Regions from separate parts of the Homo sapiens genome. Here region 2 is reported to be linked to region 1. The links are microRNA targets in miRTarBase. Many come from high-throughput screens and were not tested one by one. Region 1 holds a microRNA gene; the other region holds the end of a gene's coding sequence.
The links. Region 1 holds the annotated microRNA hsa-miR-23a-3p (AUCACAUUGCCAGGGAUUUCC, at 2,125-2,145, opposite strand). A microRNA usually pairs through its seed, bases 2 to 8, with sites in the 3' UTR of a target mRNA and lowers its output. Matches are read on the target gene's strand: a 7mer-m8 pairs with bases 2 to 8, a 7mer-A1 pairs with bases 2 to 7 and ends in A, and an 8mer does both.

Region 1 (6,349 bases):
CAGCGATGGGAGGCAGGAGTGAATCACAGACCAGACCTTCAGGAATGAAGTCAGGGCAACTTTTATTTACTTGAACAACAGACATGACACACAGCACGATCTCTCCTCTCCATCCCATCCCAAGCTTCTGTCCACGACTACCCAGGGTGGGGAAAAAGGCAATGGCCCAGCCCCGATGACCTGGGGGACTTCAGTGTGCCTCCTCAGTCCCACCCAGAAAAAAGCCTCCTCCCATCTGATTTCAAGATAGTGGAGAAAAGCCAGGCACGGTGGCTCACACCTGAGCCACCTGTAATTCCGGCGCATTGGGAGACTAAGGTGGGAGGATGGCTTGTGGCCAGGAGTTCGAGAACAGCCTGGGCAACATAGTGAGACCTGCCCCCCCATCTCTACAAAAATTAAAATTAAAAAAATTAGCCAGGTGTGGTGGCGCATACCTGTAGTCCCAGCTCTACTGGGGAGGCTAAGGCAGGAGGATCACTTGTGCCCAGGAATTCAAGGTTGCAATGAGCCATGATCACACCAGCCTGGCCAAGATGGTGAAACCCCGTCTCTACTAAAAATACAAAGATTAGCCGGGCATGGTGGTGGGTGCCTGTAAGCCCAGCTACTCAGGAGGCTGAGGCAGGAGAATCGCTTGAACCCAGGAGGCAGAGGTTGCAGTGAGCCAAGATCACACCACTGCACTTCAGCCTGGGCAACAGAGTGAGACTCCGTCTCAAAAACAAACAATAAAAGGCCAGGCACGGTGGCTCACAGCTGTAATCCCAGCACTTTGGGAGGCTAAGACGAGCAGATTGCTTGAGGTCAGGAGTTCAAGACCAGTCTGGGTAACATGGCGAAACCCCGTCTCTACAAAACATAAAAAAAAATTGGCCGGGCGCAGTGGCTCATGCCTGTAATCCCAACACTTTGGGTGGCTGAGGCGGGCAGATCACCTGAGGTCAAGAGTTCGAGACCAGCCTGGCCAACATGGCGAAACTCGGTCTCTACTAAAAATACAAAAATTAGCCAGGTGCGGTGGTGTGCACCTGTAATCCCAGCTACTTGGGAGGCTGAGGCAGGAGAATCGTGTGAACTGGGGAGGTGGAGGTTGCAGTGAGCCGAGATCGAGCCATTGCACTCCAGCCCGGGTGACAGTGCGAGACTCCATCTCAAAAAAAAAAAAACAAAAAAAAAAAAACAGAGTCCTAACTCTTCCCTGCCCTGAGAACCCCCTCAAGGCAGGGAGGATCAGCTATTCCCAGCGCCTCAGGACTAAGCACACCTGCTTGTGTCCCTTCTGGGTCCACAAGGAACTTGTTCCATGCCCCACATGTGGGGCGGGTGTCACTGCTCCTCCCGGCAAGTTAGAAAGCTGCAGGGCCCAGCAAGAAGGGGCCAGGTCAGGTCAACCCAGCCTGATACCGGAAGCCAGGAGTTGGCATTTAACGGTCTGGAGGCCCAAGGCAGCTTCCTCTTGGGTAACTGGCTGCTAGGAAGGTGCGGGCCGGGCCAGTGCCCCTGCCAGGCTTGGGAGAGGAGGGGCCAAGCCTCCAGGCCCGGAAAGGACACAGCTGGCTTCCCTTTTAATGGAAGGGCCACCCACTCACCCACCTATCTATGCTGGCACCACAGCCCAGCCTGAGCTGTGGCCATGCAGGGGTCCCCAGTTGCAGAGTTGGGGATCAGGGCCTGCAGCACACATTTGGGCCCAGCCAACCCCACCCACCACATCCCTCCTCCAGACACAGGTCTGATTCTGAGTCCTCATCTCTGCTCCAAGCATCAGCCCACCCAGGGAAGGCAGGGGCTGCAGGCTCCAAGGGGGCTTGACCCCTGTTCCTGCTGAACTGAGCCAGTGTACACAAACCAACTGTGTTTCAGCTCAGTAGGCACGGGAGGCAGAGCCCAGGGAGGCCAGGCAGCAGGATGGCAGGCAGACAGGCGGCAGCAGGGGACAGGCGGCAAGGCCAGAGGAGGTGAGGGCCTGGGGGGCGGAACTTAGCCACTGTGAACACGACTTGGTGTGGACCCTGCTCACAAGCAGCTAAGCCCTGCTCCTCAGGCCAGGCACAGGCTTCGGGGCCTCTCTGCCACCCCGTCCCCGGGCAGCATCCTCGGTGGCAGAGCTCAGGGTCGGTTGGAAATCCCTGGCAATGTGATTTGTGACAGGAAGCAAATCCCATCCCCAGGAACCCCAGCCGGCCGTGGCACAGGGGTGAGGGGGGCACCGGGCGGGGCCAGAGGCTGGCACCTGGAGGGGAGAAAGAGAGAGAGAGCAAAGGAGGTAATGAGATTTGGGGACACCTCCCCTCCAGGTCCCCAGATGCTTCCTTTGATCACAGGGAAGCTCTTTTCTCATATGCAGGAGCCACCACACGGGGAGCTGGAGCCTAGCTGTGCCCTCCGTTCCAGCCCCAGGACTGGAGAGGCAGAGATACCTAGAGGGCCCATGCGGGACAAGGAGGCTACAGCAACTTGCATGGCCAAGCTCCCCCCTCATTGAGCCCTGGGCAGGCCAAATGGGGCCATGGGGAGAGGAAGCCAAGGGGGGCCAGGCAGGCGGGTGAGGAAGTGATCTCACCCCAGCTGGCGCCACTTCCTAGAAGCCTGGAGGGCAGGAGGAAACCACCAGGGCCTCCCCCCCCGTGGCCCGGTCTCCTCAGTGGCCAGGGCTTAGCCCACACCCACCAGGGCGGATGCCGGCAGCAAGGCACCCCCCTCTCTTTCTAGACACGCACCCCCCGCCCCCCAGAGCACAGGATCCAAGCTCCAAGATACAGGCCTCTCCACCCAAACAGCCCAAGGTTCAAATCCTTGCTCCACAGTTTCCCAAAGACTCTCCAAAGCTTCAGTTTCCCCATCTGTAAAATGGAGCCAAGAGCCTCTTTTGCATAGCCCAGTGAGATGTCACCGAGTATGTATGTCACTCAGTAAGTGCCCAGCACCAGGGCAAGATACAGGATTTTCAGGACCCGGTGCAAAATGAACACGTGGTCCTCTAGTTCGAAAACTAAGAATTTCAGGCCAAGCATGGCGGCTCACGCCTGTAATCCCAGCACTTTGGGAGGCCGAGGCAGGAGAGTCACCTGAGGCCAGGAGTTCAAGACCAGCCTGCGCAATACGACAATACCCCATCTCTACAAAAAAAAAAAATATTTTTTCTTTTTTGAGACAGGGTCTCACTCTGTCGCCACGGCTAGAGTGCAGGGGTGCAATCACAGCTCACTGCAGCCTCAGCCTCCCAGGTTCAAGTGATCCTCCCACCTTAGCCTCCGGGGTAGCTGGGACTACAGCTATGCACCACCATGCCCGGCTAATTTTTTCTTTTTCTTTTCTTTTTTTTTTTTTTTGAGACAGAGTCTCGCCCTGTCGCCCAGGCTGGAGTGCAATGGCGTGATCTCGGTTCACTGCAACCTCCACCTCCAGAGTTCAAGCAATTCTCCTGCTTCAGCCTCCCGAGTAGCTGGGATTACAGGTGCCCGCCACCACGCCCAGTTAAGTTTTGTATTTTTAGTAGAGACGGGGTTTCACCATGTTGGCCAGGCTGGTCTCGACCTCCTGACCTCAGGTGATCCGCCCACCTCGGCTTTCCAAAGTGCTGGGATTACAGGCGTGAGCCACCACACCTGGCCCTAATTTTTGTAGAGATGGGGTTTTGCCATGTTGCCCAGACTGGTCTCCAACTCCTGGGCTCAAGCAATCCGCCTGCCTCAGCCTCCCAAAGTGCTGGGCTTACAGGCCTGAGCCACAGTGTCTGGCCCACAAAAAATTCACTAAAAAATCAGCCAGGAGTGGTGGTACACATCTGTAGCCCCAGCTACTCAGGCGGCTGAGGTGGGAGGACTGCTTGAGCCCAGGAGTTTGAGGCTGCCGTGATCTATGACCATGCCACTGAACTCCAGCCTAAGTGACAGAGCAAGACCCTATCTCTAAAATAAACAAAAACAAGTTTAAAAAAAGAAAATAATTTCAGGCTGAGCGCGGTGGCTCATCCCTATAATCCCGGCACTTCGGGAGGCCAAGACAGGAAGATCGCTTGGGGCCAGGAGTTCGAGACCAGCCTGGGCAATACAAGACAAAAAAATTAATAATAATAAAAAAAAATTCATGACCCCAGCAGTGCAACATTAAACTAACCTCCAGGTCCCTCCAAGCAGGGCTGCCGTGAGACTGCCCGTTTCACAAATGCATGAAGCCAGCCCTAAGTCTTTAGTGAGTGGAGCTTCTTTTGATAAGAGCCCAACACCTGGCTAGCAGACTCCAGTTTTGGAGCCCAAGTCTGCCCAGATTTGAAAGCCCCAGCTCTGCAGCTTCTGAGCTGGGTGACTCTGGGCAAGTCACTCAACCTCTCTGGGCCTCAGCTTCCCCATCTGCAAAACAGGGATAATAAGTATGGACTTCATAAGTCATGGTGAGGACCCCATGAGTGATAAACATGATCACGACAGAGCTGCTGCTGTCTTTGCCAAGGCAAAGGATAACGGAAACGTGGGTGTCTCACACCAGGACCCCAGTGTCCGCCCGATGTGGTGGCGCTCACCACTTCGAGACAGGCGGCGAGTGATGTCCTGTTTTGTCCCCTCCCTATACACACATACACACATACCAGCCACTCTTTCCCATCAGGCCCCAGCCCAGCCCTGTCCCCTTAGGGTCTGGAGGCGCCAACTGGGAGCAGGCGAGGCCCCGCAGGGCGGCCAGCCTCCCTGGGCCGCCTCCGGAAGTGAGACAGCACATTCGTGTCCCAGGGACGAGAACGGGAAGGGCGGCCATTTGGCCAGGCTCGTTTCCTGTGGGGTTTCCCCTGCACAGAGCCCAGGGCCGGGGCCAAGGCCACTCCCCATCCCCGCAGGCACAAAAGGTCTGGGTCTTGAGTGGAAGGGGTGCTGCCATGCAGGTGCCCAGGAGACAGGGTCCCCTTTACCAATCATGGTGCACTTCTCAGGCTCTTGGGAGATGGTGTCCAGGGGGAAACCAAGCTCCTAGCAGCTGGAGGCATGAGGGAGAGGGCGGGCCCCTGGGCTGGGGAGCAAAGCAGGCCCCAGGCTGCATCAGGACACCCCGGCCAGCCAATGCATGTGGGTATGCCTGAATACCCCCTCCAGACAGCGTGTGCGTGGACCAGACACACAAGGGTATGTATGTGTACCGCTACCCCCCCAACCCCATGCTCCAAGAATGAATCAGGGGCAGCTTCCGCCGGGGGCGCCACCACCACCTCCGCCCCCAAGCCTGGTCCCCAAATACTTTCCACCCTCACAGAGCAGCTGGGATCGGAAAATACCAAGGGCTGCAGGCCCCGCCCTGCCCGCCGCGCCACCCGCCCTCCCAGCCTGTCACTAACGCTTTGCCTAATGGGCCCAGACTCTCAGCAGAAGCTCCGTGGGCTGGGCCTCGAGCCAGCCGCCAACCTGGGCTGCCCGGCCAAGCGCCGCCTGACCAGGAGCCCCCCGCCCCTCTGCCCCAATCCCAGTGCAGCGACAATAACAACCGCCCCGATGGGCAGCCCTCAGAGGGTGGCACTGGGTAGGGAAAGTCAGGGCACTGACAAGTGGGTGGGCCCCGCTGCCCACCCAGGGCTGGGGTGGGGGGAGGCTCAGGAAGGGGTGAGTAAGTGAGGGCTGAATCACTTGTTATAAATAGGGGAACCATGAAAGTGACATCCCAGCCCCCATTGCGTCCCGCCAGTCCACACTCTAACCCCCACTTAGACTTTAATCTTTCCCAGACCAATCACAGAATTCCCAGGGGCCCCCTCACCTTCATGTTGGGAACCCTTAGTAGAGTGGTACACCCCGTCATCAGGTCCACCCCTGCCTTCTCCCCACATAGGTACATTTTGCAGTGAGGGCCTGGCTGTGGGGGTCCCCTGGCCTTGAATGCAGTCACTGGTGTCTGCGCCCTATCCACCTCCCTCAACGCACCGATTCCCAGGCCCAAGGCTCAGGGCCTCTAGGCTCTCCAAGGCATTCTCAGGGTGTGGGCCACCACAGTCCTGGAGGGTGACCCCAGAACCTAGGCCAGGCGGGAGGCCAGGGGGCTTGGCATCTTCGAAGTCAGTTCCCCAGGCACCGAGGCCCCACATCCTAGACCACCCAGCCCTGCTCTGCCCAGGGCCACAGCTCAGTGACCACACCCAGGGTGGCGCCAGCTCCAGCACCCTGGGGCAAGGCGTCGCTGGAGCGTGACTCAGCCGTGCCCAGCATGGCGGCGCCCTTCTCTGCCCAGGGATTCTCACCCACACCCACTGCCCTCCGCTCAACATCCTTCCCAGGCGACCGGCCCTAAAGGACACACCTTCCCCAGACACACCTCCGTGTCCACCCAGGACACCAGGAGGGAAGAAGGCGGCCAGGGGCAAAGT
Region 2 (4,364 bases), not on the chromosome of region 1:
AACACAGAAAAGATTAACAAAATGTGATGTACTTTTGAAAGTCCAGGAACACGAGAGACAAAGAACACCTGGTGAATTAGGAGAAAATATAGGCCTTTACTCTCAACTATGGAAGTATATGGATAGTTGTTGTTATGTCACTTTTCTCGCAAAAATCTTAGGCATGTATGCACATATGCAAGCTGTCATGTACTTCAAAAGTACTTTTAAAACTCCTTTTTATTTCTGTTCAATATGTTTCTCAATTTCTACTACTTTTACAGTGTTTTCATCTTCATTTAAAGATGCTATATTTGTAGAAATAAGACACTAGCACATCTGTTTTACTTCCCACCAACTAACTCCCTTTCACTAAAAATCCACATATGAGAAGGGAACGGTGTTATTTATTGAAGATCATTTTTATCCTAGATAAGGAAGCTGAATCTGTTTTACATTCAAGCCATTTTATTCATTTTCTCCACTCTGGAGAAAGCAAGCAAGCCGAAGGTTGTCCAGCTAGCTAAAAACTTTTTGGTCAAAGGTGAGTTGGAGTAGGGCTGAGTTCTACGGTTACTATCCATGGTACTGAAATTAGTACTCAGCATAGAACCGAGCTGACTTTAACTCAGCATATGCTGGCTGTTTGAAAAGACTTTCAGGAAAACCGAATCTAAGAATACGAAGGGAGACAGAAGAAGAAACTTTCAGCCTTCAAGACAGAAATAGAACTAAACCATCAATATTACTATACTTGAACTCACAATTTTTTCTTTTAAATTCCTACAAGTTTTAATGTTTTCTTAGGCACCTATGCAACATCTCATTATTTGTAATGGACACTTAGATTTTGTTTCCTCAGGTGTCTTTCCTTTTTCAGTAATAAAAAGAGGTCCCTCCACCCATTCTCCATCTAACTTTCACAACTCTTTTTGTTACCTCCAGAAATTATGATATTTCCAACAACATTTAATCCCAACTTGAGCCACTGTAACGACTTTCATTGACTCATAGGATATTTCCTAATCTTGTCTCCAAAATAAGAAACATCTCAAGATAATTCTGTATCAGAAGAGTCACAGCTCAGGTTAATAGAATTACTCCTGGAGAATGACCTAGATCTTCCTCTCATTTGAGCTATAGATTAGCGTGATATTCTCATATTAATTAATAGTGTGAGATATTAATAACATAAATATCTAAACCAGATACTTACTGAGGGAAAAAATACCTTTGAAAACCTGGTATTATGTTGTCCAACTGTTGTAGGGAGTCTGAATATTATTAAAATAGTGGAGAGATGTCTTTAAGCTAGGATCAGAAGAAGAAATGACTGCATCAAACATGACGAATTTTCCTGTGTCAGTGCCAAACCAGTGTCAGACAGACTTCCCACCAACTCTGATGTCAGGGTGAATCACAGAAGAGGGCAAAAATTTGCTACTCCTAACTACACAGAATTTCTTCCTCAGCCCTACTCTGCTATGTGAGTTTCCTTAAAGGTCATGGGAAATGAGGAGAGAGAGAGAGAGAGAGAGAGAGAGAGAGAGAGAGAGAGAGAGAGAGAGGCCTTATTTCCTAAGCCAGCAACTCAGGTGCTTCCTGCTCTGTCTGGGTTCCTTGCTTTCCAGTGGTGGTGACCAAACTGAAAGCTATGGTGGGCTTGCTTCTGGGCCTCAACCAGGGTTCTGTACTCCTCCAACCAGGCCTTGGCTCTTGCCACACCCAGTCTCCTAGAGCTGCTGAAAAGTGAGCTGAGTTTCTTTCTTACTTTTACTCCTGATAGTTGGGAGGGAATGCATGAAATTGTTTCCATCCAATATCTCTGCTTATAAAGATTCTTTTTTGCAGGATTATTGCAAGTCTGAAGGAAGAACTCCAAGGGAGATATTTGGAGCCAAATATCATAATTTCTTCTGAGCAGAAAAGTGAAGTATCCTGTGAGATGAGTTCTCACTATTAAAAGGCGGTTATAAACCTTGTTCTTTAATACTTTACCATAGAAACAGCCCTTACTAAGTCCAAGCTATACTTTGATAACAACCACTCCCTAATAAATCATCAAAATGTGCTTCCTCCTTTAAAAAAGTCTCCCACCAAAACACTTCCCACATAAATGATTAAAACAACATCACATTTTAAAAGCCATTTAATTTTAATAGCATATTTTAATGAAAAAGCAGCATACGTTGCCAATAAAACATTAAAATTATCTCTTCAATGAAAGACAATCGAACAACACCAAAAATAAATTAATACATTACCATAGTAAATAAACCATCTATTAATAAAAACAAGAAACCAGGCCATATACAGAACTCAAGACTTTGGAGAGCCTCAAAGAGAACAGCAATACAGCAAAATTTGTAAGAATATATCTATGTGTGCATCATTTTTAATGAAATATTTACAGTAGATAAGGTACCAGTTATCATGTACCTAATTTTTTGTTCCAAAAGAATTTTTCCAAACAATGTGAATTTACAAGCAGTGCACTGTCTTTCTTATAGTTCAAATTAGTTTTTCTACAAACAAACCTCCAAAAGGAAAAACTGAAGTATTCCTATAAATATTAACATGTAGCCAACAAAGCAATTGAAAACTGGAAGACTGAAATACCTTGGTGAAATCTAAAATCTGAAGGGCAAACACCAAGTGGCAAATGCACCTAAAACTAGAAAATGGTGCATCGGTCATGCTTCCAACTGCTTCTTCCCTTCTGTTAGAGGTGTGTGTGTGTGTGTGTGTGTGTGTAAGGGTAAGTGAGAGCGCTCATGTGTCATGGGGACAATGTGGGAATCCCCATTAAATATGTAACGAAGTAAACAATACTTCAGACAGTGAATCAGGTCTACACGATTAAGACATCCATTACTGAGTGTCGACTCACAAATCAGAACACTACCAGTAAAAACAAAGAAAAAAACAATCTTCATTCAAGTGAGAATATACAAATGGGTCAAAAGGAACACAGTATAGGAGGAAAGCTGTAAAAATTCGGTAAACTCATCAAACAAAATTTTTTGAACGTTACTAGCTATACATTTCCCCCACTTTTTTTAGACGGAAGAAGTTTAATTAATTAGAATGTGCACAAAATTAAGTTGCTAGAGAGATAAATTAATAATTTACAGAGGGTTGTTCTGCAATAATCTAATAATAGCTTTCAAGATCAGTGAACACAGCAGGCGCAACTCTTTTCTTAAGCATTAACACTTCAGAGAAGGAAAAGGGGGTAAGAACCACAATAAAAATATATATATAATATACAGTGTAAATGCAGAAAATCTGCCATCTTTTTTTAAAATTCAAAATACTTTAGAGATGTCTCTATCACATTAAGCATCAACTCTAGTTTAAAGTTTTAGTCCTGAATCAATTTCTATTTCTGAAAAATAGTTGCAAAGTGTACTTTTAAACTTGAACACGGGTGATGTCTGTAAGAATAAAAACAAATCTTACTTGATCATTCTTGTGGACTTTTTAAACACTGTCTCGTCTGCCTTCCTGCAAACAGCCATCTCCACACTTCCTCTGAAGAAGCCGAGGTGGGGTTCAAAGGGACAACTTTGCTACAACAGACAAATACCATCTTTTGTTATTCTTTCCTTTGAGAAACTGTTTCACATTCTCACCGGCTTGGGCTCAGTTGTTCGCTCGTTCGCTCCCTCTTCAGTCCTCGATTTGTCGAGATTCACATTTACTGGAATTGTTTCTAGTCGCCAAAAGTGAAAAGAGGCAGAAGAGAGGAGAGAAAAGAGCGGACGAGGAAAGGGGCGTCTCTGGAGAGGCCAAGAGTCTTCTAAATGCCGGCGGAATATTTCATTCTTTTCTGTTTCTGCCTCTGGTTGCAGAACCAGACGCGCACCACGTTTTTCTTCAGGTCCAGCTTCTCCGCGATGGCGGCGATCTTTTCAGAGGAGGGCCGAGGCTGAATGGCAAAGTAGGCTTCGAGCGAGCGCTTCTCTGGCGCAGCGATGGACGTGCGCTTGCGCTTCTTCTCCGCGCCATTGAAGAGTTCAGGCTTGGTGAGCTTCTCGCGGTGGGACTTCTCGGCCTCCTCGAGCCATGCCTGCAGGATGGGTTTGAGCGCGATCATATTATTGTGGGACAGTGTGAGGGACTCGAACCTGCAGATGGTGCTCTGGCTAAGCGAGCCCACGCCGGGGATCTTGAGGTTGGCCAGCGCGGAGCCCACATCTGCCTGGGTCACCCCCAGCTTGATGCGTCGCTGCTTGAAGCGCTCGGCGAATGCCTCCAGGTCCCGCGGGTCGGCGTCCACGTCGCTCATGCAGCCCATGTGCGACGGCAGCCCGTGCGCGTGGGCCATGCTGAGCGCTGCTTGGTGCATGGGGTTCATGGTGGCCATGTGCGGCGCGTGAGCC

Region 2: the mRNA of POU4F2 is a reported target of hsa-miR-23a-3p. Seed matches in the 3' UTR shown: 8mer at 3,673-3,680, 8mer at 3,602-3,609 and 7mer-m8 at 3,313-3,319.

What each region holds. Positions count from the first base shown.
Region 1 is chr19:13,834,471-13,840,819 of GRCh38, forward strand. It overlaps MIR23A (microRNA 23a), which reads right to left and starts at 2,189; the gene lies at 2,117-2,189. MIR23AHG (miR-23a/27a/24-2 cluster host gene) reads right to left here. Exons shown (of 1, transcript NR_036515.2): 1 at 46-6,349. MIR24-2 (microRNA 24-2) reads right to left here and starts at 1,889; the gene lies at 1,817-1,889. It overlaps MIR27A (microRNA 27a), which reads right to left and starts at 2,047; the gene lies at 1,970-2,047. RefSeq lists enhancers at 4,122-4,231, 4,262-4,481, 4,702-4,801 and a silencer at 5,222-5,451.
Region 2 is chr4:146,640,226-146,644,589 of GRCh38, reverse strand. It overlaps POU4F2 (POU class 4 homeobox 2), which reads right to left. Exons shown (of 2, transcript NM_004575.3): 2 at 2,116-4,364. The coding sequence ends at 3,782. Among named protein-coding and RNA genes, the nearest start is that of POU4F2, 3.5 kb to the right of the region's middle.